Homo sapiens: one gene and its partner. The protein of the gene in region 1 purifies or fractionates together with the protein of each later gene. This does not show direct contact. Each region holds a gene or a part of one and is shown in the gene's direction. Other genes may lie near its edges.

The links. The genes of interacting proteins can lie anywhere in the genome.
Region 2: the proteins of NUAK1 (region 1) and PPP1R12C purify together in Homo sapiens (affinity purification with mass spectrometry; 2 studies listed by BioGRID and IntAct, with this or other methods). This does not show direct contact.

The regions. Positions count from the first base shown.
Region 1 is NC_000012.12:106,079,945-106,086,965, reverse strand, and holds part of NUAK1 (NUAK family SNF1-like kinase 1), read left to right. Parts: intron 1-80; coding exon 81-232; intron 233-3,036; coding exon 3,037-3,102; intron 3,103-7,021. UniProt on the Homo sapiens protein: Serine/threonine-protein kinase involved in various processes such as cell adhesion, regulation of cell ploidy and senescence, cell proliferation and tumor progression. Phosphorylates ATM, CASP6, LATS1, PPP1R12A and p53/TP53.
Region 2 is NC_000019.10:55,114,624-55,122,006, reverse strand, and holds the start of PPP1R12C (protein phosphatase 1 regulatory subunit 12C), read left to right. Parts: upstream 1-4,369; 5' UTR 4,370-4,463; coding exon 4,464-4,784; intron 4,785-7,383. UniProt on the Homo sapiens protein: Regulates myosin phosphatase activity.

The DNA.
Region 1 (7,021 bases):
TCCTCTCTCGCATTCTCTGTAGCATAAGTGAGCTTGTTGGCTAAACGGGGTGTTTGTGTATTGCTGTTTTCCCTCTGCAGTGTTTGAGAACAAAGATAAGATTGTGATCATCATGGAATATGCCAGCAAAGGGGAGCTGTACGATTACATCAGTGAGCGGCGACGCCTCAGTGAGAGGGAGACCCGGCACTTCTTCCGGCAGATCGTCTCTGCTGTGCACTATTGTCACAAGGTATGGCTGCGCCTGGCCCGCAGCTTTGGCCGTAGATGGTTTTTATGGCACTGCATGATTTTTTTCCTATTATAAAAGTGATATCTGTTCATGGGAGCATGTATGGAGAATTTATGAACTAGAAAGAAGAAAATTACCATCACCCGTGATTCTGGAATCCAGGGATAATCTATTTTTGACATTTTTGCTTGTTTCCTTTCAGTCTTCTTCCTCCTCCTTCTCACATTTATTTTTTTATGTAAACTTTTAATTTTGAATAATTTTAGATTTACAGGAAAGTTTCAAAGGTAGTACAGAGAGTTCCTATCTATGCCTTTCTTAGTTTACCCTAATATTAACATCTTACATTTCTGTGGTACATTTGTCAAAATGGAGACACCAATGACCTTTTTCTGTTCCAGCATCCAATCTAGGGTACCACGGTGGATTCATTTTTACATCGTTTGTGTCATGCTTTTTTACTTAATACTTTAATCTAAATATTTTCCTATATTATTAAAAATTCTTTGTAATTCTTGATTGTTGGACATTGAGACTGTTTCTAATTTCTGATTATGACAAATAGTGATCAGTATCTTTATATATGAATATTTTCCTCTCATGTGAATAATTTACTTAAGAGAGATTCCAGAAGTAGAATTACTAGGAGAAATGTTCTTGAAACCTTTCTATGCTCTTGGTGCCTTTTCTTGCATAGGTTACCTACATGCACGGATGTGCTCAGAAGATGGCCGCAGACAGGCTCATGCCTATAATCCAAGCTAGTTGGGAGGCTGAGGGGGGAGGATTGCTTGAGCCCAGGAGTTCAAGACCAGCCAGGGCAACATAGCAAGATCCATCTTTAAAATTTTTTTTAAAAAGTAGCCAGGCATGAGGTTGCGCACCTGTAGTCCCAGCTGTTTGGGAGGCTGAGACAGGAGGATCCCTTGAGCACAGCAGTTTGGGGCTGTAGTGAGCTATGATGGTGCCACTGCTCTCCAGCCTGGATGACAAAGTGAGACCCCATCTCCAAAATAATAATAATAACAATAATAATATAGCCACAGTAGAGCCACTCTTGGTTTCTGGAAAAGGCATAAAGTACACAGATAACTACAAGCCATGTCTCAGCCATTATTGTTATTCATCACTTTGGCCATGAATTTCATCTCATTCAGACTTTCTCCAGATCTGTCACACCCTAAACAGTCATTTACTTTGAGGATAACGTGACTTGAGTCCAACAGGGCATCCAAAACAGAGTCAACTTCTTCATATAAATGATCTCAACATGGGGCCTCCTGGTTTGTTAAATATTATGTTTAATTGAGAGTGGCTCTGTAAGTAATTAGAGAACAGTTACTCAAATCTAAAACCCTTAACTCATGTGAACATTATTTGACCTCTCTTTGTTGACTCAAAATGTGCTCATGATTTGAATCGTATAATATTTTGTATTTCATCATGAGGTATCATTGTAAATCACCACAGAGGTGATATTTTTGATATTGGAAGTGTGTGAACACTTGGATTCTGTATGAATGAGGCTTTATTAGACTCATTCCATCTTATTACAAAAACCAGGAATGCAGCAATGTAAACCAAACTGCTCCTGATGTTTAAAATTAATGGAATCAGGTGTCTTGTAGTCCACATCTTTCTTCTAACAGACTCGGTTTTGTGCATTTCTGAATTCAGAAGACCTCATTGCAGGCTTGAATTAGAAAAAGATTAGTAGAAATACATGTTTTCATTTCTCCCTCTGAGCAGTGCTTTTGGAGATATTAAGAATGGTCAAATGAAAAGGAAAATAAACAAGAAAGAACCACCCATAAACATGCCTGTTGGTTTGCTCAAAAGAGCAGCTTCGATTGCAGATGTCCTTTATGCTGAATGATGTTCAGAATCATTCAATGTCCCCTGTTACTTGTCCACTCACCCCAAAATAGCCAGTTCTTTCGGGCCCACTGCTCTTCCCATGCCCACCCACCCCCTAAAAAGATAATCGGGTCTTAAAAAAGAATGAAGAAGGCTAGTGTTTACTGCTGTGTAGACCGACAGCCTATTGGCTGATGACTGCTTTTCACGTTTCAGCTGGCTGGCTGCTGGTCATTGAAGTTCAGCCTCCAGCCTTGCCAGAGTTTGCCTGAATGGAAAGGTCAGGCAGGATGGCAGCCACCTGCTTTGGTCAGGCCAGTGGTCCCAGTCTCATTGGTCTGCTCTCATGCTTCATCTTTCACCCAGCCCTGAGTCCTGCTGAGCAGAGAGGGACTTTCTGAGTCTTCTCTCCAGGTTGCTTAGGAAATGTTATCCTCAGGACAGATCAAAACAGGTCGGAATAGATTGAGCCAGATGTCTTTCCAGCGTTGAGTAGGCAGGCAGGCACACAGACAGACAGATGAGGAGTGCCTGTGAGCCCCACAATCTTGAGTCCCCAGTAGAGAAATCTGCTTCTTCCCTGGGAATCCCGTCCAGACAGACATTGTTTGCTGCTGCCTGGGATTATATTGCTTTCACACAGTGGAATTACATTCCGACAAAGAATCCCCCTGCTGTTTTACAGGCTCTGGGGGAGAACAGATTCCAGTCATTTTTCCCTTAACCACACAGCAAGTGACTAATGCTCTCCTGTCGCTGGTTGGTCGCTGGCGGGGGAGCGTCAAGACAGTGAGAGCAGCCTGAAGGATGGAGGTGAAGACCACCGGGCTGGTGCATTTCTTTAATCTGTCAGACATTTCCCTTTGCTCACCCTCCTCCTTCCTCTTTCTCTCTTGTTCTCATCCCAGCCGCTCCCATTCAATTCCCTCTTTGTCTTCTCATTTCAGAACGGTGTGGTCCACCGGGACTTGAAGCTGGAAAATATACTGCTCGATGACAACTGCAATATTAAGGTAAAGCCCTTGCGTCGTCGATTGATATGCAGGGCCTGGGTCTTGCAGCCGGATGGAGGCTTAACCTGCTCCAAGCCGCAGCCTGGAAATAAGGCAGCCACTTCCTACCTGGCAGGCTGGTGGGGAAGAGTCTCTTTGCTTGAGCTCCAAGTCCAGTTCAAACAATTAAATGCGACAAGCAGTTATTGATCTCCTACTATATGCCGGGCATTGTTCTTCCTCCCTGGGTAAGATGAGATGACTGAGATACAGTGTCTCTCCTCAGGAAGCTCATAGTCTAAAATCATCACCATAACAATACTTTTAGCAACCAATACATATTTCATATGTATTTTATATTTTTGCCTGCTATCACTTAAATTCAATCTTTACAACAACTCTACAAGGTAGGTACTGTTATTTACATAATTTCACAGATAGGGAAACTGAGGCACAGAAAAACTAAGTAATTTGCCCAAGGTAATCCAGTGGTAAAGAGTAGAGTTGGGATTTGAACCCATGTCTGTCTGATTTCACGAGCCCAAATTCAAGTCGCTTTGCTTGATTTGCTAGCAGGATCCTAAATTATTTTAGAGCTGGAACTCTTTGCCTGGCTATTTCTTTGTCACTCTCCACCCTGTCTCCTACTTCTCCCTCTCCACCTTCCCACCCCTGAAACCAGCCATAGACCTGGGAAGCTGACTAAAATGGGGATGGTGCTTGCTGTTGGGAAATAGCAAGTGCTGGAGTTTACTTGCACGGAGAGTATTATTGCTGGCTGCTGCTGGAGCTGGAGAAAGTTCTCCTGGCCCACAGGGTTCAAGTGCCTCCCAGGGAGCCCTCTGAATGTCCTTTTGACCACGTCTACAAAATAAGCAAATACGGTTTCAAAATAAACGGAGCTCGCTGCATGGGTTTCATTATGAAACGGCCTTAGTACTCCCGGCACCAGCAGGAGCCCTCCAATTGGCCGCTGGTGACGTTAGTGGCTTATCCCTGGTCCCTGGGCAAAGCATGGGAATGATTTTTTTGTTGTTGCTGCTATCAGTGGAGGAGCGTGTGATGAGACTTGTTTCCTTGCTTGGAAGGATGGAGTTGCTTTGGTGTTGGGATTCTCTGTACAGATCATGGCAGCAACCATTAGTCACCATCATCCTTTGAGAGGCCCCTGGAAGCCATGACCCAGTGACCTCTTGCTCTTGCAGAGTGTTTGACCGTAGTCACATGTAGTCTATAGAATAAGCAGGAAATAGTTGGTCAAAGTAGTTCTCCATGGGAATAGGAAGTGGAATCGCAGGGTCTATTTCTGGCAAAGTGGTTGGATTATTCTAGAAGGAGCACTGGTTGTAGAGTTAGGAAATTCCGGGCTGTATGGCTTACTAGCTTCTTGACACTGGGAAAACCACTTAACCCTGTTTCCTCAGCTGTAAAACGGGGTAACAGTACTACTCACAGGCCTGCTTAGAGCAGTGAATGAGACACTCTGTGTTTAGTTTTGTAAACTGCTAAGCACTCGTGTCCAAATGAGTCAAAGTTAAAAGCAGTGGCTTTGGAGTTAGATATTTCAACCCTGCCCCTTAGTAATGGCAGGATTTGGGGTAAGTTTCTTGATGATTTAGGCTTTAGTTTCCTCATCTGTCAAGAGTTGCCAGTTCCTGTCTCTGCAGATTATTGTTTATTTGTTCATTTTTGTTTCAAGGAGTATTTTCTGAACTGTTACTGTGTGCAATGCCCTGTGCCCAGTCCTGGAGAGTCAATAATAAACGTGAAGATTTTAGACAATACTACAATCAAAGCAATTCATGCTTAACTGTTACTATACTGGGAGCCTTCTTAAGTGGCTGGCCACTGGAGAGGGAATTGAACCGGAAGTCAGCTGCTCTGAAGGTGCCTACCTAGGTCCTGGGGAGTGGTGGTCAGGCCATGGCTGAAAAATTGGTCTTGGTTTGAGGGCCACCACATTTTTCTAAGGGTTTGTGTCATCAACCTTATTGACTTCCTCTCCAGATCCTTCCTGCCACCTGCCCCCAGAGCTCTCAAAACTAAATGTCATCTTTACAAGGCCTGGAATGTAAGCCTCTTGCCTAGGGGTTGGGTTCTATGGTGCAGTGTGACCTCTTGGTCCCATGATGTATTCCCAGAAGTGATAAGACACATAGCTTTCTATGAAATCATGTAATTCCCTAATGGAGGAAAAGAATGATTAGAATTCTGAAAGCAATTGTGCAGGGAAACAGTGAGGCAGGAGCCCAGGAGAATGGCTTCATTTGTGTAAGCAAAAGGGCAATGATGTTGGGCCTGACAGTTCCCCTGCACCAAGTTCTTCAACCTAGGGTGCCTGTGCATGATGGAGGGAAAGAGCACACACACAAAGCAGTATTATCAATTAAGGCTTAGGCATATACCTTTCCTTAAGAATTTCTAATCCTGGCATTTCCCAAGGTAAAGCACGGGTGTGCATGCACACATACGTCCCAAAGAGAAACCAGATCTTCCCATTATCAACACTTTTAAATTCCTTTCCTCTTTGTTCAAGGAATCCTACTTAGGTCTGAGAATCCTACATCTTTAAAGAACTTTGGGAGTCATTTTTCCAACCCCTTGTTTTAATGATTAGACCCAGAAAGTCTAGAGGATAATGCCCACGATCACACAGTGAATCAGTCTGGACTAAATTATTGTGTCTTTGCTTCCCCAGAGTGTAGACTAGTGCTTGGCACACAGTAGGTACTTCAAAATGGTTTGATTTTGGAATAAAGGAATGATGAGCCAGGATTAGAACTCATGTGTTTGACTTCCAGGCAAATTATCTTTTCATCATCTCCCATCCACTTCCAAGGTTTTAAAAAAATGTGATTCAGCTGGTCTTGATTTGTCTTCTGGTGGTATATTCTCAACTCTTCCTGACTCAGCATTTTGCTGAAACATATTTAGAAAGGACCCATGCTGGCAAAGGCAGGCAGATACATGGCCACAAGCCGGCCTCTGTGCTCAAGAGAGCCCCTGCCATCCGTGTCTGGACCTGGGGGACCACAGACACACGAGCCACGAACCAGCGGGACATGAGCAGCAAGATCCTCTCTTGGAGCCCCCTCTGGTGCTTCTCTAAATGTGGATCCATTTTCCACGTTTCAAGGGTGGAGGACTTTGGCCTAGGAAGCCTATATAAATGCTACTGGTTTAAACTTGTCACATGTCGCTGCAGTGGTGGGGAGAGCCATGTAGCTCATTCCTCTCCCCTTCCCTGCCTGATGTTGATTTGCAGAGCACACATCTGGCATTGGAAATTATTTATCTGGCACTGCGAGAGGGTGTGGTTTCTAAAAATATTCACACAGTCGGTCAGCAGAAAGAATGAGAGCAATGTGCTGCTTTGGGCTGCATTCCGTACTCTGGAAGCATGTCTACTAAAATAGACACCAAGCACAGCACTAATTTGCAATTAATAAAAAACGGGCCAAATTCACAGCCCACTCTCTGGGAGAATGGAATGCTGACAATTCCCATAGAAGGCTCCTGTAAAAATGTCTTACAATGAGAAGAGGTCCAGGCACCAGGGTCAGCCGACCTCCTCCAAGAGGGCTGGGAATCTGGTGAGCTCCCAGGGCTCAGAGTAGAGGGGCATAGGGGAAATGGCCTGCTGCCCCTTAAGACAATGGAAGCGCGGCTGCTGTGGATAAGAAAAGAAGCTTTGAATGGCCAGGGCCAAGATGAGATAGAAACCTCTGAAGCTTAATAAGACCAAGTGGGGCAGCTGAGAGTCAGCCTCTGGGCTTTGATGATATGAATGGGAGAGCTCTGTGTTCATGCATGAATTAATCAATTCATGTGTTGTGTGTATATATCCACGCATACCTGCATTCACTCATCCATTCCTGCATTTATTCACTGAGGAATTGAACGTCTTTTCTGGGCAATATTTATTTGATCAGAAATATTC
Region 2 (7,383 bases), on another chromosome or scaffold:
GCTACTCGGGAGGCTGAGGCAGGAGAATGGCGTGAACCCAGGAGGTGGAACTTGCAGTGAGGGGAGATCGCGCCACTGCACTCCAGCCTGGGAGACAGAGCGAGACTCCGTCTCAAAAAAAAAAAAAAAAATTATAGTTTGAGAGTTGGCAAATTGGGCTGGGCTCCGCTGGGAGTTCTTGTCTGGCTGATCTTGGCTGGACTTGCTCATGCATCTGCAGTCTCCTGGTGAATCAACAGGGGCTGGCTGTGGTCATCCCACTAGTGCCTCTTCATGTTCCCGCAGCTGGACCCAGATCCCTCCTGATTATAATGGCAGTGCTAAACTAACAGTGTCATTGAGGAGTTATGTTTGGCTGATAGTAAGAGACAGCTCCCCAAATAACAATAGTTTTGGTGAATTGGAGGTTTGTTTTCTCATATGTAACCTAAAAGACAAGAGGTAGGCAGTCCAGGGAAGGAAAGGCAGATCCCAACTGCCATCAGGAACTGAGGCTTCTAAGGCCAGGTGCAGTGGCTCATGCCTGTAATCCCAGCACTTTGGGAGGCCAAGGCGGGCAGATCATGAGGTCAGGAGTTTGAGACTATCCTGGCCAACATGGTGAAACCCCGTCTCTACTAAAAATACAAGAATTAGCCAGGCGTGGTGGCGTGCACCTGTAGTCCCAAGAGAATCGCTTGAACCCAAGAGGTGGAGGTTGCAGTGAGCTGAGATCATGCCGCTGCACTCCAGCCTGGGTGACAGAGCGAGACTCCATCTCAAAAAAAAAAAAAAAAAAAAGAAATTCCAGTTCTGGATTTGACAGTCCTCAGATTGAACCTTGTCTTGGCCAATTTCTAGCTCTGTGACTGGGGCTAGTCTCTTAGTCTCTGCCTCCTGGAGTTGATGAGATGATGTACATAAAATATCTGATAGGCATGTGATGTTGGCTGTGAGCATCTTCATATGCCACTCAAGAACATCATCTTTTGCTCTTGTCTTCCTGTGGTAAAGGTTTTGTTTTCACTTCTAGGGTCTGCTCTTTGCTCTCAATGGTAACAGTGGAATGTTGGTGCTTAACCTTGGAACTGCAGGCCCTCCTCACTGGTGTAAATAACCTCAGAAAGATAAGAAGAAAATGTTCCCACTTCTTCTGTAACAGCAGAAAAATAGATATTAGTCTGCACCATAAAGATGGTTCAGATAAGCAGGTGAAGTTAGAACATCCACAAAAGTATAAAATTGACTCTTCTGTCCTGTGTGGAGAGGGGTAAGAGTATTATAAGCCCATTCTGATTTCTGTTATTTTACTCTTTTTTGATTGCGCCAGTGCAATCCAGCCTGGGCGATGACAAGAGTGAAACTCCATCTCAAAACAAACAAACAAACAAACAAAAACAAACCATAAACACAAACTCATAAACAACATACATCCAGCCACAGACATGATTGCAAATACACACAATTATACATAAAGGCACAGAATACATACAGAACCAGAGCTACACGGTAACACCCTGAAGACCGACTTCTTGTTTTCCTGGGGGAAGGAGGTTGGTGTGTAAGTATGTGGAAAGTGTGGGGTTCAGGGACCACACCTAAGAGCCACCAGAACTATCCCTTTCTATAGAAACAGGCTTCGTGGCGGATGAAGACCCCATCTTGGGGTTCCACCAGATATTCCTACTAAAGAACATCAGCTGGGTGTGGTGGCTCATGCCTGTAATCCCAGCACTTTGGGAAGCTGAGGCGGGTGGATCACTTGAGGTCAGGAGATCGAGACCAGCCTGGCCAACATGGTGAAACCTTGTCTCTACTAAAAATACAAAAATTAGCCAGGCGTGGAGCACGCCTGTAATCCCAGCTACTTGGGAGGCTGAGGTAGGAGAATCACTTGAACCTGGGAGGCGGAGGTTGCAGTGAGCCGAGATCACATCACTGCACTCCAGCCTGGGCGACACAGTGAGACTCCGTCTCAAAAACAAAACAAAACCAAACAAAACAAAACATCAGCGATGCAATGATGCTTGGGTTTGCACCAATGATATGCAGGCTTGCTCTGCACAACTTCAGCTGACCTCCTCTCCACCGGGCCCTCACGCTGCCTCCTCTTCCCTCCTCTTTCCAGAACTATTGCCACTCCTCCAGATATGATGCACAAATGAGCAGGGTCGCAGTGGGAGTGGGCGCAGTGCGCTGATGCCACGGAGGTGTTGTGCATGACGTCTGGACACTAGACTAGCTGCATGTAATGGGAAAAGTTTGTGTTGTACCAGCGCATGCCTTGGAAAGACTTAAGTAATGCAAAAGGTTGTCCTTTAAAAAAAAAAAAAATCTGGCCGGTCGCGGCGGCTCACGCCTGTAATCCCAGCATTTTGGGAGGCCGAGGCAGTCGGATCACGAGGTCAGGAATTCGAGACCAGCCTGGCCAACATGGTGAAACCCCGTCTCTACTAAAAAACAAAAATTAGCCGGGCGTGGTGGAGCACGCCTGTAGTCCCAGCTACTCAGGAGGCTGAGGCAGGAGAATCGCTTGAACCCGGGAGGCAGAGCTTGCAGTGAGCCGACATCGCGCCACTGCACTCCAGCCTGGGCGACAGAGCAAGCCTCCGTCTCAAAAACAACAACAACAACAAAAAAAAACAAAACTACTGACAAGTTGCTCTACTTAACCCAAAGAAAGTGAAGGAGAAAGCGGCTGCCTCACCGCCTAGACATTGAGTCGCCGGATGTTTCAATGCCTCATGATACAATAAAACCACAAAAATTTTCGTAACAGCAGCAGCAACAACAACAACAAAAGAGAAAGAGAGAGGGAAAGAAACAGGCCTCGTGGGATGCGCAGTTTACGTCTCCGCGCAAACCCAAGGACTTCAGAGTGGGTGGGAAACTCCCACAGCGCTTGGGAAACAGTCTGTAGTCTCTGTCCCGATTTTGGCCCTTTTCTGTATGATTTTTATGGGACTCTTCCTGTCACAAAGTGCCAGCCACCTTCCCAATCTTGAGTTGGGCGCGGGATCCGTAAGGTGAAGATCAAGGTGTGCTCATCGCTTGGGCCCGCTGAAAGGTGATTCGCCCCCCACCTGCTGGAACTCCTTGCCCGGGACCACCAATCCCAGCATGCCTTGAGAGCGCGCGAGGGCCTGGGCGGTTCCCAGGAGGTCCGGGTGGGCGCAGGAGAAGCGCGGGCCAGTGAAAGCTCTGAGAGCCCTGTCCCTGTGGACACTGTGTCTTGGGTTCCTTTACTCGGTGTGGCTCAGGGATTACCATTAGGGAGTGGAGTGTGGATTTCTCTTGCCCCGAGCCCTAAATGCCTTGGGGCCCTGCCTTGCACCCCACTGTGCTTTTAGGGGTGTGGCCCTGTGGGCTACATTTCCCAGCGTGCCCTAGGATCGTGGTCCTGACCTTTTCACCGCAAATTTCATTTCCCAGCATGCCCTGCGAGGTCACCCAGGGAAGCTTGGAAGTGGACTGTCTTTCATGGCTTCTAGGTTGCGGACTCAGTTTCCCATGGTGCCCTGGTGAACCCATTCATTCATTCATTCCAAAAATATTTGCGATCAGGTTCTCTCAGGTTCTGTTCTAAGAACCGAGGACAAGTAGTGCACAGAAGACAAAAGATCCCGCTCTCGTGGAGCTTATTTCTAGTTAAGGGGTCAGGAAAAAAACCAAAATAAATAAAACCCAGCTGGGCATGGTGGCTTACGCTCGTCATCCCAGCAGGATTACAGGCCGAGGCGGGCGGATCATGAGGTCAAGAGATCAAGACCATCATGGCCAACATGGTGAAATCCCGTCTCTACTAAAAATATAAAAATTAGCAGGGCGGGGTGGCGCGCGCCTGTTATCCCAGCTACTCTGGGGACTGAGCCAGAATTGCTTGAACCTGGGAAGCGGAGGTTGCAGCGAGCCGATATCGCGCCACTGAACTCCAGCGTGGCGACAGAGCGAGACTCCGTCTCAAAACAAAGAAAACAAAATAAAACAACAATAACAAAACAACTCTGCCTCTCCCCGCACTCCCTCCCACGCGGCTGTCCAGTCGAATTCCTAACTGCCCCGGGGCAGTCTGCTATTCATCCCCTTTACCCGGTGCTACACACTTCCTAGTATGCCGTGGGGCACCCCTCCGGCCTGTAGACTCCATTTCCCAGCATTCCCCGGAGGAGGCCCTCATCTGGCGATTTCCACTGGGCGCCTCGGAGCTGCGGACTTCCCAGTGTGCATCGGGGCACAGCGACTCCTGGAAGTGGCCAAGGGCCACTTCTGCTAATGGACTCCATTTCCCAGCGCTCCCCGCGACCTGCCCAGCACACCCTGGGGCAGCGCCGTGACGTCAGCACGCCGGGCGGGGACCGGGAGATCCTTGGGGCGGTGGGGGGCCAGCGGCAGTTCCCGGCGGCCCCCGGGGCGGGCGGGCGGGCGGGTGGTGGCGGCGGTTGGGGCTCGGCGCTCGCTCGCTCGCTGGGCGGGCGGGCGGTGCGATGTCCGGAGAGGATGGCCCGGCGGCTGGCCCGGGGGCGGCGGCGGCGGCTGCCCGGGAGCGGCGACGGGAGCAGCTGCGGCAGTGGGGGGCGCGGGCGGGCGCCGAGCCTGGCCCCGGAGAGCGCCGCGCCCGCACCGTCCGCTTCGAGCGCGCCGCCGAGTTCCTGGCGGCCTGTGCGGGCGGCGACCTGGACGAGGCGCGTCTGATGCTGCGCGCCGCCGACCCTGGCCCCGGCGCCGAGCTCGACCCCGCCGCGCCGCCGCCCGCCCGCGCCGTGCTGGACTCCACCAACGCCGACGGTATCAGCGCCCTGCACCAGGTCAGCGCCCCCCGCCCGGCGTCTCCCGGGGCCAGGTCCACCCTCTGCTGCGCCACCTGGGGCATCCTCCTTCCCCGTTGCCAGTCTCGATCCGCCCCGTCGTTCCTGGCCCTGGGCTTTGCCACCCTATGCTGACACCCCGTCCCAGTCCCCCTTACCATTCCCCTTCGACCACCCCACTTCCGAATTGGAGCCGCTTCAACTGGCCCTGGGCTTAGCCACTCTGTGCTGACCACTCTGCCCCAGGCCTCCTTACCATTCCCCTTCGACCTACTCTCTTCCGCATTGGAGTCGCTTTAACTGGCCCTGGCTTTGGCAGCCTGTGCTGACCCATGCAGTCCTCCTTACCATCCCTCCCTCGACTTCCCCTCTTCCGATGTTGAGCCCCTCCAGCCGGTCCTGGACTTTGTCTCCTTCCCTGCCCTGCCCTCTCCTGAACCTGAGCCAGCTCCCATAGCTCAGTCTGGTCTATCTGCCTGGCCCTGGCCATTGTCACTTTGCGCTGCCCTCCTCTCGCCCCCGAGTGCCCTTGCTGTGCCGCCGGAACTCTGCCCTCTAACGCTGCCGTCTCTCTCCTGAGTCCGGACCACTTTGAGCTCTACTGGCTTCTGCGCCGCCTCTGGCCCACTGTTTCCCCTTCCCAGGCAGGTCCTGCTTTCTCTGACCTGCATTCTCTCCCCTGGGCCTGTGCCGCTTTCTGTCTGCAGCTTGTGGCCTGGGTCACCTCTACGGCTGGCCCAGATCCTTCCCTGCCGCCTCCTTCAGGTTCCGTCTTCCTCCACTCCCTCTTCCCCTTGCTCTCTGCTGTGTTGCTGCCCAAGGATGCTCTTTCCGGAGCACTTCCTTCTCGGCGCTGCACCACGTGATGTCCTCTGAGCGGATCCTCCCCGTGTCTGGGTCCTCTCCGGGCATCTCTCCTCCCTCACCCAACCCCATGCCGTCTTCACTCGCTGGGTTCCCTTTTCCTTCTCCTTCTGGGGCCTGTGCCATCTCTCGTTTCTTAGGATGGCCTTCTCCGACGGATGTCTCCCTTGCGTCCCGCCTCCCCTTCTTGTAGGCCTGCATCATCACCGTTTTTCTGGACAACCCCAAAGTACCCCGTCTCCCTGGCTTTAGCCACCTCTCCATCCTCTTGCTTTCTTTGCCTGGACACCCCGTTCTCCTGTGGATTCGGGTCACCTCTCACTCCTTTCATTTGGGCAGCTCCCCTACCCCCCTTACCTCTCTAGTCTGTGCTAGCTCTTCCAGCCCCCTGTCATGGCATCTTCCAGGGGTCCGAGAGCTCAGCTAGTCTTCTTCCTCCAACCCGGGCCCCTATGTCCACTTCAGGACAGCATGTTTGCTGCCTCCAGGGATCCTGTGTCCCCGAGCTGGGACCACCTTATATTCCCAGGGCCGGTTAATGTGGCTCTGGTTCTGGGTACTTTTATCTGTCCCCTCCACCCCACAGTGGGGCCACTAGGGACAGGATTGGTGACAGAAAAGCCCCATCCTTAGGCCTCCTCCTTCCTAGTCTCCTGATATTGGGTCTAACCCCCACCTCCTGTTAGGCAGATTCCTTATCTGGTGACACACCCCCATTTCCTGGAGCCATCTCTCTCCTTGCCAGAACCTCTAAGGTTTGCTTACGATGGAGCCAGAGAGGATCCTGGGAGGGAGAGCTTGGCAGGGGGTGGGAGGGAAGGGGGGGATGCGTGACCTGCCCGGTTCTCAGTGGCCACCCTGCGCTACCCTCTCCCAGAACCTGAGCTGCTCTGACGCGGCCGTCTGGTGCGTTTCACTGATCCTGGTGCTGCAGCTTCCTTACACTTCCCAAGAGGAGAAGCAGTTTGGAAAAACAAAATCAGAATAAGTTGGTCCTGAGTTCTAACTTTGGCTCTTCACCTTTCTAGTCCCCAATTTATATTGTTCCTCCGTGCGTCAGTTTTACCTGTGAGATAAGGCCAGTAGCCAGCCCCGTCCTGGCAGGGCTGTGGTGAGGAGGGGGGTGTCCGTGTGGAAAACTCCCTTTGTGAGAATGGTGCGTCCTAGGTGTTCACCAGGTCGTGGCCGCCTCTACTCCCTTTCTCTTTCTCCATCCTTCTTTCCTTAAAGAGTCCCCAGTGCTATCTGGGACATATTCCTCCGCCCAGAGCAGGGTCCCGCTTCCCTAAGGCCCTGCTCTGGGCTTCTGGGTTTGAGTCCTTGGCAAGCCCAGGAGAGGCGCTCAGGCTTCCCTGTCCCCCTTCCTCGTCCACCATCTCATGCCCCTGGCTCTCCTGCCCCTTCCCTACAGGGGTTCCTGGCTCTGCTCTTCAGACTGAGCCCCGTTCCCCTGCATCCCCGTTCCCCTGCATCCCCCTTCCCCTGCATCCCCCAGAGGCCCCAGGCCACCTACTTGGCCTGGACCCCACGAGAGGCCACCCCAGCCCTGTCTACCAGGCTGCCTTTTGGGTGGATTCTCCTCCAACTGTGGGGTGACTGCTTGGCAAACTCACTCTTCGGGGTATCCCAGGAGGCCTGGAGCATTGGGGTGGGCTGGGGTTCAGAGAGGAGGGATTCCCTTCTCAGGTTACGTGGCCAAGAAGCAGGGGAGCTGGGTTTGGGTCAGGTCTGGGTG